2 separate regions of the Homo sapiens genome follow, and region 2 is reported to be linked to region 1. Evidence: microRNA targets listed by miRTarBase, many of them from high-throughput screens and not tested one by one. Region 1 holds a microRNA gene; the other region holds the end of a gene's coding sequence.
Evidence for each region. The annotated mature microRNA hsa-miR-1295b-3p reads AAUAGGCCACGGAUCUGGGCAA and lies in region 1 at 2,234-2,255, shown strand. An mRNA with a match to its seed (bases 2 to 7 or 8) in the 3' UTR can be bound and repressed. Matches are read on the target gene's strand: a 7mer-m8 pairs with bases 2 to 8, a 7mer-A1 pairs with bases 2 to 7 and ends in A, and an 8mer does both.

Region 2: the mRNA of TMEM38A is a reported target of hsa-miR-1295b-3p. Seed matches in the 3' UTR shown: 7mer-A1 at 921-927.

The regions. Positions count from the first base shown.
Region 1 is chr1:171,099,544-171,102,696 of GRCh38, forward strand. MIR1295B (microRNA 1295b) reads left to right here and starts at 2,196; the gene lies at 2,196-2,255. The region is part of intron 2 of FMO3 (flavin containing dimethylaniline monoxygenase 3); the gene reads left to right. MIR1295A (microRNA 1295a) reads right to left here and starts at 2,263; the gene lies at 2,185-2,263.
Region 2 is chr19:16,687,811-16,690,898 of GRCh38, forward strand. It overlaps TMEM38A (transmembrane protein 38A), which reads left to right. Exons shown (of 6, transcript NM_024074.4): 6 at 334-2,213. The coding sequence ends at 561. Among named protein-coding and RNA genes, the nearest start is that of TMEM38A, 28 kb to the left of the region's middle.

The sequences.
Region 1 (3,153 bases):
AAATATTTATAGTAATCCTATAAGCTAGGTATATTTTTTTTCCTTTTACAAATGAATTTGAAGCTTTAAAAGAAAAGAAAAAAAATCATACAGCTGATAATGGTGGAGAAAAGATCCCAATTCAAGCTTGCCTTTCTCTCTAGTCTATTCTTAACTCCTTTGTAAATTGCTGGTTGCCATTTCACCAAGTGGCCTATCGAGCTGACCATGTCTTTCTTTTTTTTTTTTTTTTTTTTCTTTTTTCTTCTTCTTTTTTTTTAGACAGAGTTTCTCTCTTGTTGCCCAGGCTGGAGTGCAATGGCACAATCTGAGCTCACTACAACCTCCACCTCCTGGGATCAAGGGATTCTCCTGCCTCAGCCTCCCGAATAGTTGGGATTACAGGTGTGTGCCATCACGCCCCGCTAATTTTTGTATTTTTAGTAGAGATGGGGTTTCGCCATGTTGGCCAGGCTGGTCTCGAACTCCTGACATCAGGTGATACACCCGCCTCGGCCTCCCAAAGTGCTGGAATTATAGGCATGAGCCACCACTCCTGGCCAGCCATATCTTATACACAGTGATCTTAACCAAAGCCTCATACTCAAATTTAGTTTGCAAGACGTTGCTGAAGATAGAACGCACTGCTGATATGGCTATTGAGAGGAACACAGCCAAAGACAGCTAATTTGTCTTTTCTTGCTGCTCGAGGAAGACTTTAAAATTTGAACCTGGCAGCATAGGTTGATAAAACTGAACTGCAACATGTGCTACCCTTCAAGAAAAAGAAAGGATAGCCCAGAGGGTAGAGCCTCAGGCCCTGAGGGCAGAGGCCTGAGCCAAAGCCTTCAAGCCTGAAGGAATTTGTCCTACTGGATTTCAAAATTGCTTGGGATTAGTGATTCTTTTCTTTCCTCCTTTTTCCTCCCCGGTTAAATGGGAATGTCGATAACGGTTACCCATGCTTGTCCCACCATTGTATTTTGGAAGAAGATAACTTGTTTTCTAGTTTCACAGGTTCACAGATAGAAATTTTGCCTCATCCTGGTCCATATCCAGAGTCTCATTTATACCTGATTTAGATAATTTATATGATGATGAGATTTTGGACTTTTGAATTGAAAATATATAAATGAGAGTTGAGACTTGATTTCATGCTGCTATGGGTTGAGACTTTGAGGATGTTGGGATTGGGTTAATGTATTTTGCAGATGGGATGGATGTGAATCCTTGGGAACCAGAGGATGGCCTGTAATAGGCTGAACAATTTAACAATGCCCCTCCTCAAAGATATCACATCCAAATTCCTGGAACCTGTAAATGTTATCTTACTTACAAGAGAAAAGGGTATTTGCAAATATAATTAAGTTAAAAATCTTAAGATGGAGAGATTTTTCTGCATTATGTGGGTGAGCCCCAAACGCTATAATGAATGCATCGTTAAAAGAGAGAGGCAGAGGGAGATTTAACACAAAGAGAAGAGAGAAGGTGATGTGATGACCTCAACAGAAAGAGAGAAATTTGAAGATGCTATGCTCTATCTTTGATGATGGCCAGAGGAGCCATGAGTGAAGGCGTACAAGAGGGGTCTTGCCACTGAAAAAAATAAGAAATGCCAGCATCCACCAGAAGCCAGAAGCGGCAAGGAATGGATTCTCTCCTGGAGCCTCTGAAAATGAACATGGTACTGTCACACTTCGTTTTCAGCCTACTGATAGTGATTCCCGACTGCTGACTTCTAGAACTGTGAATCAATTGCTATTATTTTAAGCCATTAACTTTGTGGTAATTTATTACAGCAGCCACAAGAAACTAATACCTTTGGTTTTTCAGCGTTTCCTATTTTACTACTGTGAGGGGGCTTATAGATTGCAAATGATGGAGCAAACAGCAGTGTTTCTCAGATCACTAGAAGTCTGCAGCAATAGGCTTAGTATTCACATTATAAGATTGTTATAAAATTGTTCTAATTTTGTATTTGCCTTCCCTTTGGTTTCTAACATCATCATTTTACATTATCTTAACTTTTTTTAAATTTCAGAGAGATCCAAACATTGGTTAAAACTTAGCTAACACTAAGGGTGCATATAGTTGAAACTGTTGGAGCTGTTTACTACAGCACTTTCTATGCCCTTCTAGTTCTGACTTCTAACCCTGATCTAGAGCCACGATGATGTATTTCCCTCACCTTCTTTGGTCACAGAAGGAGGACATTTCACCCAGATCTGCGGCCTAATCACAGGCCACATTTCTGAATAGGCCACGGATCTGGGCAAAATGTCCTCTTTTCTCAGGAGCTCCCCAAACAATAAATCAGTAAATCATATGAATTTTTGCATGAAGTTTTATGAATAGTGGCTTTCTTCTGGGAATACCTCCCTTTTTTAACTTCCTCTGATTTTTTTCTGGACTATGTATCAATTTTTTTCTTTAATGTTTCTTCTCTCTTTATGCTGATTATCATCTCTTTAAACTTACCCAACTCACAGAAAGCTACAAATTTTTGCACTTCCCCATCCCACATGCCTATAGCAGAGTCAACAAACCATGTGAGCAGCAGAAAACTCATGTCCTATTTAAAGAACACGCTGCTTTCTGAAATGAACATGGCAACTAATCTGCCAATTAATTATTTGTCAATAATGAAACTGCAGCCACATTGGCTTTTGACGTGATTGTAATATTCCAATATTATACTAAAATTTCATGTTCTGGGAGCCCTGACAACTTTCAGTTAGATGAGCTCTAATTAGAAGTTTCTAGTGCTCAGTACTTTCCACTATGAACTAGCAACTACACATAGAGATCTACAATCTGATCTTTCATCATGAAACTTGAGATATAAGTACCTTGATGCTTCAACAGAGCTAAACCAAGGCTCCACCTCTTCCTAATCATGCTCCAACCAGTATTTTTTTTTAACTTAATGCCTTTTATTCATTCAACAGCTTGCTTTGCAGAGCTCACAGCTGTAACAGATGTGTCCTATGGTAAGCTCTTCCACAGTAACTGTAGCCTGTTGGTCATGAGCTTCCATTTGTTGAACTCTACATTGTGACTGACAAACTTGGCTGCACCTTAAAATTACCTGAAGAGCTTTTAAAACTTGCTGTCAATTAAATCAAATTCTCTGAGAGTGGGACCTAATGCTCAGTGTGTTTTTTAAAGCTCCCA
Region 2 (3,088 bases), not on the chromosome of region 1:
TGGGAGGACACAGACCTTCAGACCTGCACTTAGCACAGCTTTTCTCTGAGCCCAGGTGTCGTGGGGAATTCTGGGGGATGGGTGACCAGCAGTCTCAGTGTGCTTGGAACTTTCCAGGGGTCAACACTTGAAATCTGGCATCCTGGGAAACCTGAGATGGTCGCCCATCATCCTGGGGGTGCATGCAGCCAGAGGGCTGGGTCTGGGCTACCTCCAACCTTGACTTTGATGACATTCTCTCCCCTCTTCTCCCCACCCTGCCCTCCACTCCTTTGCTTTCTACCTTGGTCTCCCTCTGTCTCTCTTGCTGTCTCCCTGGCCACCCCACCTCAGGTGTTTCTGACAGCCACCCACTCACACAGCTCCCCCTTTGATGCCCTGGAGGGCTACATCTGCCCCGTGCTGTTTGGTTCGGCCTGCGGGGGTGACCATCACCACGACAACCATGGTGGGTCCCACAGCGGTGGTGGGCCAGGAGCTCAGCATTCGGCCATGCCCGCCAAGTCCAAGGAGGAGTTGAGCGAGGGCTCCAGGAAGAAGAAGGCCAAGAAGGCGGATTAGGGGGTGGCCCAAGGGGCACCGGGGAGAGGACCCGGACCCAGGACCCTCTGAGCTGGGAGGCTTCCTGCGCTCAGATCTATCCTTTCCTGGCCTTGACTTCCCCATCTGCAAATCAGGGTCATTGGCTCACCCTCCAGGGCTGATGTGGGGGTTGAGATATGGGGATGAGGATGAAGAACTTTTGTAGAAATCGGGGTTCCCTCTTTCTCTCTGCCAGGACCCCATAGAGTCACAGCTTTTGGAGGGGTTCACAGAATCCTGGCAGCAGCTCCAGTCAAGAATGTCACTGGTTGGCATGATATTCTTAGTTGTATTTTTCCTTCTTTAAAATTGCATCTTGACCAGGCACAGTGGCTCATGCCTATAATCCTAGCACTTTGGGAGGCCGAGGCGGGCAGATCACCTGAGGTCAGGAGTTCAAGACCAGCTTGGCCAACATGGTGAAACCCCATCTCTACCAAAAATACAAAAATTAGCCAGACGTGGTGGTGCACGCCTTTAATCCCAGCTACTCGGGAGGCTGAGGCAGGAGAATCACATGAATCCAGGAGGTGGAGGTTGCAGTGAGCTGAGATCTTCCCACTGCACTCCAGCCTGGCCAATAAGACCTGTCTCCAGCAAGACCCTGTCTCAAAAAAAAAAAAAAAAATTGCATATTGACTCCTGAAGAACTTCAAGCCATGTTGAGATCCATTCATTTGATGGACATTTTCTAAGTACCTGTGAGCCAGGTGCTGCCATTTCAAAGTCTCTTCTTACCACGCTCCTCAGTGGCTAGACATTTTCACGTGGCCAGAAAGTCCCGACTCTTGCTGGGCGTCCCTGGACAAGTTGCCTTCCTCCTCTGAGCTTGGCGCTCCCCATCTGTATAGTGGAGACCCTTGGCCCCCCTCTGTACGGAAGGGCCGATGCGAAGCTGCAGTTAAAAAAGGCTCACATGCTCCTAGCCTCGTGCAGTCAGGAGGGGAGACCAGGACAGTTGGAAATTATGATTGCAAATGGCTTTGCATTTTAGATCATTCGTGTGTGTGGATCAGAGAAACGCACAAGTTCCCTGGCACAAAGGAAGCCCTCAGTAGACACGTCTAGGGCAGGCTTGAGAGATCAGATGGCGTGAAAGGCTTGTGATCTGTTCGTCTCAGGCTCCCCCTAAACCAAAGAAATGGAAACAGCTGGTTGGGGTTCCACGATCCAGCTCTATCAAGGGGCTCTGAGTGTGCACAGTTGGGACCTGGATGTATCAGGTCTCCCTCAGGCTGGAGTCCACTGTCACTCATTCAGCCATTGAACAAACATACAGATGCTTACCTGCTCTGTGGTCAGCCTTGTGCTGCTGCTGGGCGGGCCAGGAGCCTGCTTCAGTGTGAGCGAGGTGGATGATATTATAGCTGAAGGGTCCCTCCTGGTCACCCTCATCTCAGCCTAGGTCACCAGGATGTCTGAGAGGGGTGGGTGCATGGGACGGGCGTGGCCAGTCTCAGGTGAGGTTTGGGCCCAGACCTCGTTGGAGTCCCAGACGTTGCCAGGCTGTTGGAAAATTGCCTTGTTCCTGTGATGCCTGGGAGTTAGGTGGGTCCTGGGGAGGTTTCATCCTCTTGCTTGTCCACCTCAGCTCGGTGTGGAGGGGCAGCCAATAAATCATTGTGAATGAACCCTCATGGCTTGTCTGATTTATGCCTGGGATTTTGTTTTTTGTTTTTGTTTTTGTTTGAGACCGAGTCTCACTCTTGCCCAGGCTGGAGTGCAGTGGCCCGATCTTGGCTCCCTGCAACCTCCACCTCCCGGGTTCAAGCAATTCTCCTGCCTCAGCCTCCCGAGTAGCTGGGATAATAGGTGCCCGCCATCACACCTGGCTAATTTTTGTATTTTTAGTAAAAGCGGGGTTTCACCATGTTGCCATGCTGGTCTTGAACTCCTGACCTCAAATGATCCACCCACCTTGGCCTCCCAAAGTGCTGGGATTACAGGTGTGAGCCACTGAGCCCAGCCACATGCCTGGGATTTTGGCCTCAAGATGTGGGGATGGCTGGGCATGGTGGCTCATCCCTGTAATCTCAGCACTTTGGAGGGCTGAAGCGGGCAGATCACCTGAGGTCAGGAGTTCAAGACCAGCCTGGCCAACATGGTGAAACCCTGCCTCTACTAAAACTACAAAAATTAGTCAGGTGTGGTGGCAGGTGCCTGTAATCCCAGCTACTCGGGAGGCTGAAGCAGGAGAATCGCTTGAACCTGGGAGGTGGAGGTTGCGGTGAGCTGAGGTGGAGACATTGCACTCCAGCCTGGACAACAAGAGCAAAACTCATTCTTTAAAAAAAAAAAAAAAAAAAAAAGGCTGGGCATGGTGGCTCACACCTGTAATCCCAGCACTTTGGGAGGCCAAGGCAGGTGGATCACGAGGTCGGTGGATCACGAGTTCAGTAGATCAAGACCATCCTGGCTAACATGGTGAAACCCCATCTCTACTAAAAATACAAAAAATCAGCTGGATGTGGTGGCGGGCGCCTGTAGTCCCAGCTACTTGGGAGGC